4 linked regions of the Homo sapiens genome follow. The protein of the gene in region 1 interacts with the protein of each later gene in a biochemical or structural test. Each region holds a gene or a part of one and is shown in the gene's direction. Other genes may lie near its edges.

What was found. Proteins that work in one complex are often made in the same cells at the same time.
Region 2: the proteins of DLG1 (region 1) and VANGL1 interact in a test that uses a peptide from one of them, tested with the Homo sapiens proteins (2 studies listed by IntAct, with this or other methods).
Region 3: the proteins of DLG1 (region 1) and KCNA4 interact in a biophysical measurement, tested with the Homo sapiens proteins (2 studies listed by IntAct, with this or other methods).
Region 4: the proteins of DLG1 (region 1) and ATP2B4 form a complex in vitro, tested with the Homo sapiens proteins (2 studies listed by BioGRID and IntAct, with this or other methods).

The regions. Positions count from the first base shown.
Region 1 is NC_000003.12:197,046,207-197,051,142, reverse strand, and holds part of DLG1 (disks large homolog 1), read left to right. Parts: intron 1-4,936. UniProt on the Homo sapiens protein: Essential multidomain scaffolding protein required for normal development. Recruits channels, receptors and signaling molecules to discrete plasma membrane domains in polarized cells.
Region 2 is NC_000001.11:115,647,770-115,652,705, forward strand, and holds part of VANGL1 (vang-like protein 1), read left to right. Parts: intron 1-3,507; 5' UTR 3,508-3,644; coding exon 3,645-3,715; intron 3,716-4,936.
Region 3 is NC_000011.10:30,008,494-30,012,330, reverse strand, and holds the end of KCNA4 (potassium voltage-gated channel subfamily A member 4), read left to right. Parts: coding exon 1-1,614; 3' UTR 1,615-2,601; downstream 2,602-3,837. UniProt on the Homo sapiens protein: Voltage-gated potassium channel that mediates transmembrane potassium transport in excitable membranes. Forms tetrameric potassium-selective channels through which potassium ions pass in accordance with their electrochemical gradient.
Region 4 is NC_000001.11:203,706,132-203,711,067, forward strand, and holds part of ATP2B4 (plasma membrane calcium-transporting ATPase 4), read left to right. Parts: intron 1-877; coding exon 878-1,092; intron 1,093-1,730; coding exon 1,731-1,973; intron 1,974-3,169; coding exon 3,170-3,411; intron 3,412-4,745; coding exon 4,746-4,936. UniProt on the Homo sapiens protein: Calcium/calmodulin-regulated and magnesium-dependent enzyme that catalyzes the hydrolysis of ATP coupled with the transport of calcium out of the cell. By regulating sperm cell calcium homeostasis, may play a role in sperm motility.

The DNA.
Region 1 (4,936 bases):
CTCAGCCTGTCAAAATGCTAGGATTACAGCGGTGAGCCACCCTGCCCAGCCAGGAATCTTGAAATTTAATGTTTCTTAGGTTATTGATTAGAACAACAAAAACAGGAATAATTCATACTTGACCAGAGAAAAATAGATTTAGATTTCATTTCTTCTATGAAACTCTGATTTTTCTCTTATCCTTTATAAATTTTGATCCATTTTCTCTAGCCATGTTGAGGTATAATTGACAAAATTCGTATATATTCAAGGCATATAATGTGATTTGATAAATGTGTACATTGTAAGTTGATTAACACAATCAAATTAACATGTCTTTAACCACACAGTTACCATTTTGTGTGTGTAGGGAAGACTCTTAAGATCTACTCTTTATTAACAATAGTCACTACTGCTGTATATTAGATCCCCAGAATTTACTCATGTTAAAACTGAAAGTTTGTGCCCTTTCACTAACATCTCCCCATCTCTTCTACTCTGCAGTCCCTGGAAACCACCTCTCTGTTTCTATGAGTTCTACTTTTTTAGATTCCACGTATAAATGAAATACAGTATTTGCTTTTCTGTGTCTGGCTTATTTCATATAGCATAAGGTCCTCCACATTCACTCATGTTGGTTGTTGCAGATGATAGGATTTTCATTTTTATGGCCTAATAAAATATTCCATTGTTGTATATATACCATATGCATGCATACATACATACATATATATATATATTTGTTGTTGTTTGTTGTTGGGTTTTTTTGGGGGTTTTTTTTGTTGTTGTTTTTTTTTGAAATGGAGTCTGGCTCTGTCGCCCAGGCTGGAGTGCAGTGGCGCAATCTCGGCTCACTGCAACCTCCGCCTTCCGTGTTCACGCCATTCTCCTGCCTCAGCCTCCCGAGTAGCTGGGACTACAGGCAGCTGCCACCACGCCCAGCTAATTTTTTGTATTTTTAGTAGAGATGGGGTTTCACCATGTTAGCCAGGACGGTCTTGATCTCCTGACCTCGTGATCCACCCGACTCGGCCTCCCAAATTGCTGGGATTACAGGCGTGAGCCACCGTGCCCGGCCTGTTTTTGGTTTTGTTTGTTTGTTTTTGAGGCAGGGTTTTGTTCTTGCCCAGGCTGGAGTACAGTGTCATGATCATGGCTCACTGCAGCCTCAACCTCCTGGGCTCAAGCAATTCTCTCTCTTCAGCTTCCTTAGTAGCTGGGACTACAGGCGTGCAACACCACACCTGGCTAATTTTTTATTTTTGTAGAGACAGGGTCTCGCTATGTTGCCTAGGCTGGTCTCAAACTCCTAGGCTCAAGCAATCGTTCTTCCTCGGCCTCCCAGAGTGCTTGGATTATAGGTGCACTGCACCTGGCCTACAATATTCTCTTTATTCATTCATCTTTTTTGTTTTTGGAGATGGAGTTTTGCTCTTGCTGCCCAGGCTGGAGTGCAATGGCATGATCTCAGCTCACCACAACCTCCCGGGTTCAAGCGATTCTCCTGCCTCAGCCTCCTGAGTAGCTGGGATTACAGGCATGTGCCACCATGCCCAGCTAATTTTGTATTTTTAGTAGAGATGGGGTTTCCCCATGTTGGTCAGGCTAGTCGAACTCTTGACCTCAGGTGATCCGCCCGCCTTGGCCTCCCAAAGTGCCGGGACTACAGGCGTGAGCCATCGGGCCCGGCTCATTCATCTTTTGACAGACTCTTAGGTGATTTTCATATCTGGGCTATTGTTGATTATGTTGCAGTGAACATAGGAGTGCAGATTTCAACATACTGATTTATTTTCCTTTGGTTTTCTTTTTGTTGTTGTTGGCTTTTTGTTTTTTATTGTTTTGTTTTGAGACAGAGTCTCACTCTGTTGTCCAGGCTGGAATGCGGGTGTGATCTCAGCTTGCTGCAACCATCGCCTCCTGGGTTCTGTTGATTCTCCTGCCTTAGCCTCCCAAGTAGCAGGGACTAGAGGCACATGCCACCACACCCAGCTAATTTTTGTATTTTTAGTAGAGACAGGGTTACAGGGTTGGCCGTGCTGGTCTCAAACTCCTGACCTCAAGTGATCCGCCTGCTTCAGCCTCCCAGAGTGCTGGAATTACAGGTGTGAGCCACCACGCCTGGCCCAATTTCCTTTCCTTTGTATATATATCGAGTAGTGGGATTGCTAGATCATATAATAACTCAGTTTTTAATTTTTTGAGGTGGCTGGGCACAGTGGTTCATGCCTGTAATCCCAGCATTTTTGGAGGCCCAGGTGGGCAGGTCCCCTGAGGTCAGGAGTCCGAGACCAGCCTGACCAACATGGCGAAACCCCTTTTCTCTACTAAAAATACAAAATTAGCCGGGCGTGGTGGTGCATGCCTGTAATCCCAACTACTTGGAAGGTTGAGGCAGGAGAATTGCTTGAACCTGGGAAGCGGAGGTTGCAGTGAGCCAAGATCGCACAATTGCACTCCAGCCTGGGCAACAAGAGTGAAACTCTGTCTCAAAAATAATAATAGTAATAATAATTTCTTGAGGAATGTCCACACTATTTTCTGTGATGGCTTTACTCATTTACATTCCCACCAACAGTGTACAGGGTTCCCTTTTCTTCATACCATTGCCTACTTGTTATCTCTTATCTTTTTGATAACAGCCATCCACACAGGTCTAAGGTGATATTTCATTATGGTTTGCGTGTGTGTTTGTGACAGAGTCTTGCTCTGTCACCCAGGCTGGAGTACAGTGGCATGATCTCAGCTCACTGCAACCTCTGCCTCCTGGGTTCAAGCGATTCTCATGCCTCAGCCTCCTGAATAGCTGGGATTACAGGCACATGCCACCACACCCGGCTAATTTTTGTATTTTTAGTAGAGACAGGGTTTTGCCATGTTGGTCAGACTGGTCTCAAACTCCTGGCCTCAAGTGATCTGCCCGTCTCAGCCTCCCAAAGTGTTAGGATGGCAGGCGTGAGCCACTGCACCCAGCCTCATTATGGTTTTGGTTTCTGTTGCTCTGATTAATGAGGTTGAGCACTTTTACTGATACCTGCTGGCCATCTGTATGTCTTCTTTGGAAAAATGTCGATTCCAGTCCTTTGCCCATTTTTTAAATGGATTATTTGGTATTTTGCTAATGATTTTCTTATATATTTTGGATATTAACCCCTTACCAATTGCATGTTTGGAAATATTTTCTCCTCTTCCATAGGTTGCCTTTTCATTTTGTTGATTGTTCCTTTGCTGTGTAGATTTTTTATTTAATATCCCACTTGATGATTTTTTATTTTGCTGCCTGTGCTTTCCAAAAAATCATCCAAGACCAGTGTGAAGGCGCTTTTTTCCCTGTGTTTTCTTCTAGGAGTTTTATGGTTCTGGTTTTACATTTAAGTCTTTAGTCTATTTCAAGTTAATTTTGTATAAGATAAGGGTTTAGTTTCGTTCTCTTGCATGTGGATATCCAGATTTTCCAGCACCATTTATTTAAGACACTAGCCTTTCCCTATTGTGTAGTCTTGGCCCCTTTTTAATGATTAGTTGCCCTTTGATCCGTTTTGAAATACTATTTGTTTAAAAAAAAAAAAAGTAGGTAGCAACTCCCCAATATTCTTATTTTACTCGCCTTGTCCTTTAACTTCCTCCTCAAGTCTTTGGACATTTTTGTTGTTGTTACTTGTTTGTTTGAAATAATATCAGCCTAAATTTGACATTCACACTGAGTATCAGTAAGGGTCATGGTTTTTAAACCTTGTGCTTTCTTATTTTTTTCAAACTAATTTCAGACTTAAATAGAAGTTACAAGAATAGTACAGGGAGTTTCATGTACCCTTCACCCAAATTCCTCAAGTGTTAACATTTTACCACATTTATAGGTTTTTTTCTGATACACTTGAGAGTAAGTTTCAGGTAGATGTCCCTTTACTTCTAAATATTTCAGTGTGTATTTTCTAAAAAACAGGGATATTCCCTTATAGAATCATAGTTTTATTATCAAAATCAGGAAATTTAATAATTATATGTCTCATCTAACTATAGATCTTATTAGTATTTCACTATTCTTCTAATCTCTTTAGAGCAAAATGGAAAAAAATGGTTTTTCTGTTCTGGTGCAGGATCCAGCGGAGGCTCACGTGCTGTATTGGATTATCACATCCTTAATGTTCTTTAATCTGAAATCGTTCCCAAGTCTTGTTATTCATGACCCTGACTGACATTTTTTAAGAGTAAAAACACTAGGGGGGATTTTTTGTTGTTTTTTGTTTCGTTTTGTTTTTTGTTTCGTTTTGTTTTTTGTCTTTTGTTTTTTTTTGAGCCAGGGTCTCACTCTGTCACCCAGGCTGGAGTGCAATGGTGCGATCTCAGTTCACTGGAACCTCCACCTCCCAGGCTCAAGTGATCCTCCCACCTCAGCCTCCCAAGGAGCTGGGACTACAGGCTACAGCCAACATGCCCAGCTAATTTTTGTATTTTTTGTAGAGACAGGATTTCGCCATGTTGCCCAGGCTGGTCTCAAACTCATCCAATCCGCCCACCTTCACCTTGACCTCCCAAAGTGGTGGGACTACAGGCGTGAGCCACTGCACCCGGCCAAAGACCCATTCTTTTATAAAATGTCCCTCCCTCAATTTGGATTTATCTGATGTTTTCTCATAATTCGATTTAGGTTCTGCATTTGGGGCAGGAATAGCAATGAAGTAATGATGTGTCCTCTGTGTATCATGCAAGGAGGTTTACAAAGTCTACTTGTGCCGTTACTTATGATGCTAATTTTAATCACATGGTTAAGGTGTCTGCAGCCTTATGCTTTCCCAGTTTCCCTGGTTTACTAACCATTCCATTAATGAATTTACAAAGTAAGCAAAATGTATATTTCCCAAGTCAGTTCCTGACTGTTTTCTCCTAAAATAAATCCTTGCGTGCTGTTGTCAACCTAAACTATGAAATGCTCTAAAATAAATCCTTGCGTGCTGTT
Region 2 (4,936 bases), on another chromosome or scaffold:
ATGAGGGTATTGCTTTAGCTGAGGAATTGGGAAGAACAGGACAGGATACTGGAGAGCACCTATGAGAGGGATGATGGTATTCCCAAGGGGAGCAAGAGGAATCTCAGTAGGAAATGTGCACTTGGGATTTAGTCTTTCAGTAAGTATTTGTTGGGTACCTGCTATGTTCAAAATATCCTGGGTGGAGGTAAGACGTAGTTGCTGTGTTCAAGGAGCTTCTGCCATAGGAAATCTGTGGATGGAGAAGACTGAGAAGAGTTTTGAATGTCAAGGGATAACGTGATGAGGGGAGAGGAGAGGGAGTGTTAGAGGAGAAGTAGTAACATAAGCGGCATCAAATTGGAGGCTAGCCAGCTGCAGAGAAACTCTGCTAGGGCAGGCAGCATGCCTTTGTCATTGCTGTGCCCTAGCATTGCCTAGCATGGTCTTGTAGGTGCCACTTAATATGGAGGTGGATGGACTAATAAATGAAATAAAAAGCACTGGGGGAGGAGGACAAGGATGTTACTTGGCTCATAGCAATCCTTGGCCAACTTTGAGTTGTTTCAGTGGAGTGTTGTGGATGGAGATTTGGACTGAAAGTGGAGAAGGAGGGAGTGACAGCATGTATAGACCACTCCTTTGGTAAGTACAGGAAGGAACCATGGGAGGGAAACCAGACTAGGGTGGTTGGTAGAGTTAGATAAAGCCTTTCCCTGGAGGGCAGTTGGGACCCATGGTTTCCTTTGAGGGACAAGCCTGGAGTTGTCTTAATGAATGGCCACAAGTTTTCAATGAGGACAAGGAATGAAGTCCTCTGGCAGAGGGGGAAGGGAATAAAACTTGGGTTACCATGTGCCAGAGACTTTACCTTTGCAGTTTCATTTAATCCTCACAAGAACCCTGGGAAGAGAGAGTATTAAATGACCTCATTTTTATGGGGCAGGGTTGGATAAGCTCAGAGAGGCAAACATTTGCCCCCTGATGTCACAGCTAGGAAGCACCAAGCTGGATCTGCCCACATCTGCGGGGCCTGGGCCACCTGCCTCTGAGACACTCCAGCAGCATTTAGCAAAAAGTAGCTGGAAGTTGGGATGGAATGGGGAATCCAGAGTTATGGGTTGCAAGGCAGAGTGTAGGAGTTGTGAAGGGTTAATTATGAATCTAGAAGAGAGTGGGAAATCGGTGTTCTGGGCCAGGGAACTGGACATTTGAATCTGCAGATCAGCAGAGGCTGGGTGAGGGGCTTTCAGGGAGGATCTCAGTTCACTCAGGGCTGGAGATCTTCGAAGCACATCCTAATGTTGACGTCTGCCTGTTATGAAGCAGGTGAGAAAACAGCAAAGCCCAGGGCAGAAAGGAAGTGAGACTGAGGTGTTGAAAGCTGATTGAAATTGCTAGTGAAAATGGTGGAGACAGTAGGCAGAAAAAAAGATGACTCAGCCCTTGAAGTCTTCTAGGAAAGTAGGGTAAGTCCAGGAGCAAAACTTAGCATTTAAAAAAGGCCTGCTGTGTTTTCACATTTAATCTTTACAGCTACCTCCCCCCACAAACCCCCACCATAATAGGCTGCCTTGCTTCCTTTTTATGGATTGGGAAGTCTCTGAGGCTCCAAGGAGAAACTGCTTTGCCCAGGTGTACAGCTAGTTAGTAGGCAGCGGACTGAGATGTGTGCTCCGTTCTGTCTGACTGCAGGTGAGCCTTGTGGCAGGAAGGCCGGCACAGAGACTCTGCTCTGCTTCTTTCCAAGCATTTCTCTCATTAAAAAGACAGAGGAACAAGCATTTCGGAACCCGCAAAGAGAGTGCTGATAGACAGTGACTTTCGTTTACCTAGCACATCTGGAGCTCGCGCTGGGTGCCTTCATAGTTGTTAGCTCATTTGGTCTTCACGGCAACCCTGATATTTGCATTTTACAGTTACATGTTCAAAGAGGTTTACTAATTTTGACTGGGGCCTGATAGCTAATAAGTGAGTAAAACCCGAGATTGGAACCCACCTTTGGAAACTGTGTCTGCTTATATTTTCAGATCTACCTGTGAGGTCGGTGGCTGGTTGGTTTACCCTGTTTAACAGATGAGGAAACTGAGGCATAAGAAAGCAAGTGGCTTATCCCAGGTTGTACTAAACAGTGGCTGGGCTCAGACTAGAACTCAGGTTTCCCCAGGGCTAGCCTTGGGCTCCTGATGGCAGAGGAGAAGTGAAATGGTAAGTCAGGGCATCAGGGACAAAGGAGGCTGGCCCTGGGTGGCAGACCTTGGAAGTGATCGTACCTGACTCCCAGGAAGAATGAATGGTAAGGGTAAATACACCCTAACTGGGATTAGAGGCTGTGGGGGCTGTATTGGTGGTGTATGGCAATTTGTGCTGACCTGATTCCCTCCAGACTTATGTGTTGTTGCTGGGGTCAGGGAAACTTGGCCTCCTCCCAGGAGGGTTAGGGTATGGCATTTACAGCTCCTTTGTTTTTTCTTCACACTTATCTCACTGGCTGTGTTTGCAGTTTCAGCTTCCAGCGGCTGGAAGAAGGAACCCTGTTGAGCTGAGACTAGCTCTGGGGTGAGGGGTGCAGAAAGAGACAGAACTTGTGGATCTCGGTTTTCTAGAAGTAAAAATTTTAGCATGTGGGAGCTCAGGAATGTACTTGGAAATGTTTCCAATTTATTTTTATTGCAAAGCAATATCTAATGAAAATGTGGGAGAAGACCCAGGAGCCTGCAAATAATAAATTGCCTGCTTTCATTTTCTGTGTCTCCTTTTAAAAATCTTTGTCCTTACATAAGCAATTTTATACAATTGTAACTGTAATGTTGGTTCACTGTGTATCAACAATACTGTATCCTGCTTTTAAAATTCATCATTATAAGAGTTTCTATTCTTTATAATGATCATTTTAAACATATGTGATACTTTTCTGGTGGATGAACCATGTTTTCCTTACCTATTCCTGTATTCTGGGGGCATTCAGATTGTTTCTAGCATTTTATTATTTATAGACAATGAGACCACAATAATTTTTCTTTAAAAAAGAAATCAGTTCCCTCAGATAAATTCCCAGAAATTCGGATCCTAGATCAAAAAGATTGAAGATCTTTTTTTTTTTTAATTGACTTTTGGAAATTATGACCAAATCCCTTAAAAGCAACTTCGCTGGGTATTGTTTTTTTAACCAGCAAACTGGCAGTGGGGGGCTGGGCATTGTGTGGAGGGTCGCAGATGTGGAAAGCCACCTCCTAAAGCCAGTGAGCAGGGGTCAGGTCATCCTGAGGACGTGGACAAGTGCCTCCCATTTTCCTGCTGCTGTGGTAGGGGTTCAGCTTGCTCAGCGCCTATCCTGTCTCCCTCCCAGACACCTGGGAAAACTGGTTGCTGCATGGGTGGAGCATTTACAGTTCAGTTGCTTCACCCTCACTCGCTTGTTCCATGATAGAGACCCCAGAGAGGAGGTGTGGCTTTGTCATTTATCTTTCAGCCCCATTAAGGTTGGCTCTGAAGATTAATGTCTTTTTTTTTCCCCCTCTTTCCCAGAATTTGTTCCTGTTGAAGAGTGGCTCCTCTTCTAATTTCCAGACTCCTTGAGGTTTTAGGAGTCTGGTAGGTGAAATTTTCTACCTCTAAGGAGAAACAGTACCTGCTCCTTCCTCAAGCGCAAGCCCTCCATTGCTATGGATACCGAATCCACTTATTCTGGATATTCTTACTATTCAAGTCATTCGAAAAAATCTCACAGACAAGGGTATGTAAGTTGTTCATTATTACACTTTTCCTTTTGGGGAAACCTACAGGTTGGTGGGGTTCTCTACACTCACTTTTCAGTGACTCAGCGCTGGACATTTGGTCGGTTGGTGCATGAGAAGCTGAGCTTTAAGAGCATTTAACATTCTTGGGAGTAACTACGTCACCAGTTTACATTTTATAGCCACCATTAGAGTTGATGACTTTAGTTTCTCACAATTGGTTTTAAATTAAAGTTTCTTCCTGCAGTGGAAATGTTTTTCATTTCTAGGTATTTCTTTTTTTTTTTTTGAGACGGAGTCTCGTTCTGTCACCCAGGCTGGAATGCAGTGGTGCCATCTCGGCTCACTGCAAGCTCCGCCTTGTGGGTTCACGCCACTCTCCTGCCTCAGCCTCCCGAGTAGCTGAGACTACAGGCGCCCACCACCACGCCTGGCTAATTTTTGTATTTTTAGTAGAGACGGGGTTTCACCTTGTTGGCCAGGATGGTCTCGATCTGACCTTGTGATCCGCCCGCCTCGGTTTCTAGGTATTTCTTATAGGTATCGGCTCTCCTGAAAGCTTTATGAAGAATGTAAATGGAAGATTTAAAAAGTGTTCATTGCTTGTTGCTTTTCACCTGAAGTTGTTGACTCATTGTCCATTATGCCTTTGTCATGAGGCTTATTTAGTGAACTGGTAGGATTGTCCTGGCACCTTATTCTTTTTGACTAATCTTCAGGTGAACAAGTTTGGGTTTTGAAAACACTGTCCTGAGTGATATTGGTCAAACTTCCCCTTCTCTGCAAAATTAGCAGGTGTGCACTGGTATTCTTAGGGCCTGCTGTGTTACTGACCTGTAGAATGTTTGTTAAGTAGAAGAGCAAATGAATGAATAAAGAAATCAGTGAACAGATAGGTGGCACTGTACCAGTTAGAATTGTACTTGGTGAAATTGCAGTGCTGCTGTTTACTTAGCCTTGTCATCTGTAAAATGGGTACAGCAGTCCTCTCCTACAGGGCTGTTGAGAGGATTAAATGAGATTATGCATGTGAAGCATGTAACACAGTACAGGCTGGAGGTCAGTCAACAGTGGCTAAAGTAATGCTGTAATGGCCTTGGCATTTCAGCACTATGTTCCAAGGTATCAACTGGCCCCAGCCCAAATGCCCAGCTCTGCACTGGCTTGGGAATAGTGATTGTAGTGGTTTTTCCCTGACTGCGCTCTTCCCCATACAAGCA
Region 3 (3,837 bases), on another chromosome or scaffold:
ATCCTGAGGGAGCTGAGTGAGGAGGAGGAAGATGAGGAGGAGGAGGAAGAGGAGGAAGAGGAGGGAAGGTTTTACTATAGTGAAGATGACCATGGTGATGAGTGTTCCTACACGGATCTGCTGCCTCAGGATGAGGGCGGTGGCGGCTACAGTTCAGTCCGCTACAGTGACTGTTGTGAACGTGTGGTGATAAATGTGTCAGGCCTACGCTTTGAGACCCAAATGAAAACTCTGGCCCAGTTTCCAGAGACTTTGTTGGGAGACCCTGAAAAGAGGACTCAGTACTTTGACCCTTTGCGCAATGAGTATTTTTTTGACAGGAACCGCCCCAGCTTTGATGCCATCTTGTATTATTATCAATCAGGAGGCCGCCTGAAGAGGCCAGTCAATGTCCCCTTTGATATCTTCACTGAGGAGGTGAAGTTCTATCAGTTGGGGGAGGAGGCCCTGTTGAAGTTTCGGGAGGACGAGGGCTTTGTGAGAGAAGAGGAAGACAGGGCCCTCCCCGAGAATGAATTTAAAAAGCAGATTTGGCTCCTCTTTGAATATCCAGAGAGCTCCAGTCCTGCAAGGGGCATAGCCATTGTGTCCGTCCTGGTCATCTTAATCTCCATTGTCATCTTTTGCCTGGAAACCTTGCCTGAGTTTAGGGACGACAGGGATCTCGTCATGGCACTGAGTGCTGGCGGGCATGGTGGGTTGTTGAATGATACTTCAGCACCCCATCTGGAGAACTCAGGGCACACAATATTCAATGACCCCTTCTTCATCGTGGAAACAGTCTGTATTGTATGGTTTTCCTTTGAGTTTGTGGTTCGCTGCTTTGCTTGTCCCAGCCAAGCACTCTTCTTCAAAAACATCATGAACATCATTGACATTGTCTCCATTTTGCCTTACTTCATCACACTGGGCACTGACCTGGCCCAGCAACAGGGGGGTGGCAATGGTCAGCAGCAGCAGGCCATGTCCTTTGCCATCCTCAGAATCATTCGTCTGGTCCGAGTATTCCGGATCTTCAAACTCTCCAGGCACTCCAAAGGCCTGCAGATCCTGGGCCACACCCTCAGAGCCAGCATGCGGGAACTGGGCCTTCTGATCTTCTTCCTCTTCATTGGGGTCATCCTCTTTTCTAGTGCTGTGTATTTTGCAGAGGCGGATGAACCTACTACCCATTTCCAAAGCATCCCAGATGCATTTTGGTGGGCTGTGGTGACCATGACAACTGTGGGCTATGGGGACATGAAGCCCATCACTGTAGGGGGCAAGATTGTCGGGTCCCTGTGTGCCATTGCGGGTGTCTTAACCATTGCTTTGCCAGTGCCAGTGATTGTCTCTAACTTTAACTATTTCTACCACAGAGAGACTGAAAATGAGGAACAGACACAGCTAACGCAGAATGCAGTCAGTTGTCCATACCTCCCCTCTAATTTGCTCAAGAAATTTCGGAGCTCTACTTCTTCTTCCCTGGGGGACAAGTCAGAGTATCTAGAGATGGAAGAAGGAGTTAAGGAATCTCTGTGTGCAAAGGAGGAGAAGTGTCAGGGAAAGGGGGATGACAGTGAGACAGATAAAAACAACTGTTCTAATGCAAAGGCTGTGGAGACTGATGTGTGAATCTTTTTCCACCTGCCACTGCTCCCCCCTCAGCATCTCCAAATATATTTATGCATAGAGAGTGCAGTTATGAAAATGAAATATGCAAATGATCCAATGCATACAGTAGTACACTATTTAATGGTTATACATGGCATAATTGTTACTAAACTTGTATTACATATCAAATAAATGATACATCTTGGAGAAGAGGGAGGAATAGGAGCAAATCTATCTTTATATTTTTATTAGAATGCAAGAATTTTGCACATTAACTGGAAAAGATGTTAACAGTAAAGATGGAGAGAGAGAGTGTGTGCGTGTGTGTGTATATGTGTGTGTGTGTGAAGTAAATTGTCAATGTTAGTAATTGTGCAGTGAAGGGAAAAGTTGGCATTTTGAAGTATTTACTATGTAAGAACTAATGAATCTGAGCAGTCATTTATCAGTGCTTTAACAGCATATCGTATGTCTTTGGATTCTGTAGTTGTTTTTTAAAAATTGTAAGAAATACTGTGTAGAGAAAAAAGAAAGTAAATTATTTAATAGACTATAGGTCACAATTTTATCTTGGATTTAATTAAAATTTATTTTTAACTGGAAATTAACTTTTAAAAAGGCTGCAAGGGCCTTTAGAAATTGATTATATTTTGTTATTAATTTTGGGAAGACTTAACAGCAAATGTCTAACATTATAGAATAAGTGAAATTGGAGAATATGTAATAAGTTTTGTTTGCAGGTAACAGGACTGGATTTTTTTTTCTTTGCACTACTTTATATGCTGGAGATTGAGAGAGACTTCAAACTGTGAATGTTTACTAATGTAACAGTTCAATGACAATCATTGGAAGAATGATTTCTTTAGTCTTATTTTATTGTTTTCTTTTCATTGTGTGAGACTAATGATCATGCAGATAACATCACAGGATTCTCTCCTCTTTTAAAATCTAAATAACTGATTGACAAAGGAATTATGAAGTAAAATTTAGCAACTGAATCTTTTGAAATTGGTCTGTTAGAATGATGCTTCTGAAATCATACTATTTTATATATTCTTCTGCCTTTTAACTCCAGAATAATTTAACCAAAGTTAATGCATGCACTGAAAGAATTCTTGAAGAAGATGCCAAGCAGCTACAGTGATTATGGCTTAAAATTTTTCTATTAAATGTGAAACATAAACGCTAGATTTATTAAGTTTATTTTTTTGTGCAGTTATATAAGAACAGAATTTGGGGATTAACCTCAGATTTTAACATTATATTTGCTAAAATGGACATAAGGAAGAATTGTGTCAAACATTTGGTTTCAACATCACCATCATTATTATCTTTATTAAAGGAATTTATGACACATATAACTGCATTTAAGTCATGACAAAGCATTCTAGAATGTGAGATAACAACTAGCGATCAGCCTTGCACTATGAAATCATGAGGTATAGGTTAGAAAACTCAGAATGCATAAGAGGCCTTATTCTACAATGTTTATTTAACTTCTGTTCTTTATAAAATGATTGTCTTGAGCTCTGGTTGGGGGCGGGGGAACAAAACAAAACAAACAACACTGCATACACTATTTCGGCACATAGTGAACTCTGGTAACTGTGAGCTACAAACAAACAAACTGACCTAGAATAGCCTTTCTCAAGCTTTTTAAAATCCAGGCCATCATTTCATAATTACATAAATCCTACCTCTCCTTTAATGGTATTTGAAATTCAAAGTAAATTCAACATTAGGCTTAAAAGTAAAACTGCACCCCCTCTCCACCCTTTCCCCACCATTTGTAGAGAAATACTTTTCTAGAACACCTTTTAGAGAATGAAAACAGCAAGCAGGGCCTTTTATTGAATGTGAAGAACAAAGATCAATAGAAGACAACAGAGAATGATAAAACAAGAAAATGTCATCTTACAATAAGATTTCAAAGATAATGTTTTAATACATTTTAGATTTGGGGCAAAAATGTAACAAGCATTAGAGAAGGGGTAAGGCTATTTGGACAGGCTGTAAGTCATTTGGAAATGTCACTTAACATTTCTGCACCCAAATTTCGTGATTGGTTAAAAAGAGGGCAAATGAAGCACATTACGTTACAGAGTTATGCAAAACAAATGAGAACATGCGAAAACTCTGAAATGTTGACTTCCATACAAATGCCTGATGTTATGTCTAAATTGTTTAATCTTCCTCTGGGAGAAAAAGCGATTTAGAATGCACAAGCATACATCTACTTTATTA
Region 4 (4,936 bases), on another chromosome or scaffold:
GAACCCCTAAGCCAGTCGGTTTTGACCTTGAGCAGATTCTTTCACGTACTGTAATGTGTAGGGTAACCAACCATCCCAGTTTGCTTGGGATTTTCTCAATTTTAGCAAAGCCCCACATCCCTGGAAACTGTTCAGTAGTCTCAGGATGGTTTGGTTACTCTACCAATGGGCCATACCAAAGACTTCCCAGTACTTTCATTTCCTCATCTTTAAAAAGGCGGTAATAATAATGACCTATTTCACAGGGTTGTGAAGTGCTTGCCTGGCCCACAGCAGGTGCCCACATAAGTATTTACTATTATTGGCATCTTCTATGTGTGCCGTGACAAGAGAAATCTTGGGAAGCACTGTTCTAAGAGTTAGTCATGCAGGTGATACACTAGCACCATAGAGGCATTGTTGTAAACAAGGTGTGAATTGTCCAACATTCAGAGGTTAGTAGAGGAGAAGTCAAAATTGATAAACTACTATGAAATGGACAAGTACAGTCATGACATTATGAATCGCAGGGAGAGGGTGGGCGTGGAATAGGATCATAGAAAGCTGTTTCAGGAAACAGATCAACCCCCTGATTTATGAATGAGGAATTTGATCTAGGAAACAGGCCCAGAGAGGGTCAATGACTTGTCCAAAGCCACAAGTCAAGTTAGTGCAGTGCTGAGAATAGAACCTGTGTCTTTGAAATACGAAACCACTGTCTGTTCCCTATGCTATAATGTACAAGCAACAGAGAATGGGGGGGATTTTAGTAAGTCTTCCTGGCGATGGTGGTTTTAATAATTGGCAACAAAGGCTACAACTGATGCCAATCTATCTCTGGCTAGGGCCCTAGGACTGCCCTCCAGCCTGGGTTCATATGACTTGTTTCTCTGGACAGGTCTGCTCATGTCTGCTCTCACGGTTTTCATCCTGATTCTATACTTTGTGATTGACAACTTTGTGATAAATCGCAGACCATGGCTCCCTGAGTGTACTCCCATCTACATCCAGTACTTTGTCAAGTTCTTCATCATCGGCATCACTGTACTGGTGGTGGCTGTGCCAGAGGGGCTGCCTCTGGCTGTCACCATCTCACTGGCCTACTCTGTGAAGGTGAGACTAGAACAATCCTATCTCTTCCTTTAGGATAGAGATGGGAGAGAAGGGTACCATGTAACCTTTAGTGAAAAGATAAGCCATTCTATCATCTATAAACTTTGGCTGGTGCCTCACAAGAGCAGAAGTCCCTGGTATTATGGAAGGACCATCTCTGTCAGATGCATCAATGTTGAAATGACCCAGCAGAATCTTAAGAGAATGACAAAAATGGTATCTTGGATTTTTTTTTTTTTTTAAGACAGAGTCTCATTCTGTCACCCAGGCTGGAATGCAATGATGCAACCTCCGCCTCCCGGGTTCAAGTGATTCTCGTGCCTCAGCCTCCCAAGTAGCTGGGATTACAGGTGTGCACCACCATGCCCAGTTACTTTTTGTATCTTTTACAGAGACAGGGTTTCACCATGTTGGCCAGGCTGGTCTTGAACTTCTGACCTCAGGTGATCTGCCCGTCTCAGCCTCCCGAAGTACTGAAATTACAGGCATGAATCACTGCACCCAGTCAGTATCTTGGATTTTTGTGTGGGACTGGAAGATGAAATGTGGAGAGATGTTGGCTAGGAAATGGCCTTTGACCTAGATTTAGGAGAGTCCAGTTAGTCCCCCTCTCAAGTCTTTTCTCTTCTCCTTTGTAGAAAATGATGAAAGACAATAACCTAGTACGGCACTTGGATGCTTGTGAGACCATGGGCAACGCCACCGCCATCTGCTCTGATAAGACAGGCACGTTGACCATGAACCGCATGACTGTGGTACAAGCTTATATTGGGGGCATCCATTACCGTCAAATCCCAAGCCCTGATGTCTTCCTGCCCAAAGTCCTGGACCTCATTGTCAATGGCATTTCTATCAACAGTGCTTATACCTCCAAGATTCTGGTAAGCATTTCCTTTGCGTAGACACTTAGAGTGGGTGGTTGGAAGGGAACATCCATTTTCTCTGAAATGAACCCCCTTATTGTTTACACTGCCTAAATTGCCATCCCACATCCCATTTCTCACGCTGGAGTGAACATGTTTGGGTGAGACTACAGAAAAATCCCTGGGAGTCAATGGAGGGTTGGAGGTAAGGGCCTGTAAGAATCTATGGCCAGGAAATACCCTCCCAATTAGCATGTAAAAGCAATGTCTCTAAGGAGGGAAAGTAGAAAGTAACCCAAAGTAGAATTGGGCTTATCAGAAGTAAATTACTCACTTTCTAGAAACAAGCATAGTGTATTAGAATAAGACCCACACAAGGCGAGACACCAGCACTACCACTAGAGCAAACTACAAAATCCCTAAGCCCTGGATGGCACAAGGATCACGGTTACCACTGACCCCTCTCTGCCTACCCTTGAAAAACAACAGGCTAGGCATAGTGGCTCACTTCTGTAATCCCAGCACTTTGGGAAGCCAAAATGGTAAGATCGCTTGAGCCCAGGAGTTCGAGACCAGCCTGAGCAATATTGTGAGACCTCATCTCTACAAAAATAAACAAAATTAGCCAGGCATGGTTGCGCACCTGTAGTCCCAGCTACTCCAGAAGCTGAGGTGGGAGGATCACTTGAGCCTAAGAGGTCAAGTCTGCAGTGAGCTGAGATCACACCACTGCAGTCAAGCCTGGGCAACAGAGCAAGGTGCTATGTCAAAAAGAAAAAGAAAAAAGATGCCAGGTGCTGTGGCTCATGCCTGTAATCCCAACATTTTGGGAGGTTGAGGTGGGCAGATCACCTGAGGTCAGGAGTTCAAGACCAGCCTGGCCAACATGGTGAAACCCGGTCTCTACTAAAAATACAAAAATTAGCTAGGCATGGTGGCAGGTACCTGTAGTCCCTGCTACTCAGGAGGCTGAGGCAGAAGAATCACTTGAACCTGGGAGGTGGAGGTTGCAGTGAGCCAAGGTCGTGCCACTGCACTCCAGGCTGGGCAACAGAGCGAGACTCCATCTCCAAAAAAGAAAAAAAAAAATGTTATTTCCCCTATGAGCTCCAGGTATATAATGTGAAGGCTTTGTAAATGAGTTCTTTCTCCCTAAGTTCTCTGCCTTGTCAAGGCATCTTACTCAATAGTGCTGTGTATATTTCTTCTCCCAGCCTCCAGAGAAGGAGGGAGGCCTGCCTCGGCAGGTGGGCAACAAGACCGAGTGTGCTCTGCTAGGCTTTGTCACAGATCTGAAGCAGGATTATCAGGCTGTGCGTAATGAAGTGCCCGAGGAGAAGCTCTACAAGGTGTACACCTTTAACTCAGTGCGCAAGTCAATGAGCACCGTCATCAGGAATCCCAACGGTGGCTTCCGTATGTACAGCAAGGGCGCCTCTGAGATCATCTTGCGCAAGTGAGCACCCCCGACCACTCTGCTTCCCTTCAAGATCCTCTCCTCAGGAAGGCATGGGTGCACACCCCACACTGAACCCATGTGAATGAGGGAGCCCTCCAGCCAGGTGGTGACATAATAACTAATATCCAAGCGTCTACTCAGGCCACGCATGTTTTTTAAGTGCTTAAGGTGGCTTGTTGTATTTAATCCTCACAACTCAGTAAGGTGGGTACTATGATTATCCCTGTTTTACAGATGAGAAAACAGAGATATAAGGAAGTTAAGTATCTCACTCAAGGTGATACAGCTAATAGTGGCACAGCCAGGATTCAGACCTGGACGATCCTAAGTTTCCATTTCCTAATCTGAAAACAGAGATAGCCATACTCAGCTCCTAAAAGTACTACCCCCTCACTGTAACTAAATGATTCAATGTATGTAAAATGCCTTATACATAACAAGTACTAGAAACGTTTGTTCTGTGTTCTCTTTTCCTTCTCTTTCCTTCCCATTCCCATTTCTGATTACAGGGAATTTACATAACTTTAAAAGTGACTATTCGGCCAGGCGCAGTGGCTCACGCCTGTAATCCCAGCACTTTGGGAGGCCGAGGCAGGCAGAACACGAGGTCAGGAGTTCGAAACCAGCCCGACCAACATGGTGAAACCCTGTCTCTACTAAAAAAAAATACAAAAATTAGCCAGGCATGGTGGTGCGTGCCTGTAATCCCAGCTACTCAGGAGGCTGAGGCAGGAGAATCGCTTGAACCCAGAAGGCAGAGGTTGCAGTGAGCTGAGATCGCACCACTGCACTCCAGCCTGGGTGACAGAGTGAGACTCCATTACAAAAAAAAAAAAGTGACTATTAATAAATTACCCATAGTTCATCAAAAGTTGGCACTATACCTAAGTAGGGCTGAATTAACCAGTGCTCCAACATGGCTTTAGCCACCTTCTTTTAATCAGCACATTCTTGTATAGGAAACCTCCCCCAAACCACCAGCACCACACAGTGAGCACTATTCTAAATACTCGGATTGAAAAAGTCTCTCTGCCTTCAAGAAGTTCAAAAGAGCAGGTGATTCACAAATGACTTGCATTGCATTCACATATGGGTAAGAACAGATGACATGGGAGAATCCCACTCTCTATATATCTAGACCTTAACTCCATCCACAGCCCACCTACCTTGGAAAGAGGGACTCAGCTGGGTGATGAATGAAGGAAATGTTTGGCCACACTTGGAGCAATGTCTTTAGGAATAATACAGAGTTGCCAAAATACCTGTCAATGATTGTAGAAACGTATTGAGTGGGAAGGGAGACACCGCGTTCTTACTGTGCGCCTCCCCAGGTGTAATCGAATCCTGGACCGGAAAGGGGAAGCAGTGCCATTCAAGAATAAAGACAGAGATGATATGGTACGCACTGTCATCGAGCCCATGGCCTGTGATGGACTCCGGACTATCTGCATAGCTTACCGGGACTTCGATGACACAGAGCCCTCTTGGGACAATGAGAATGAGATCCTCACCGAACTGACCT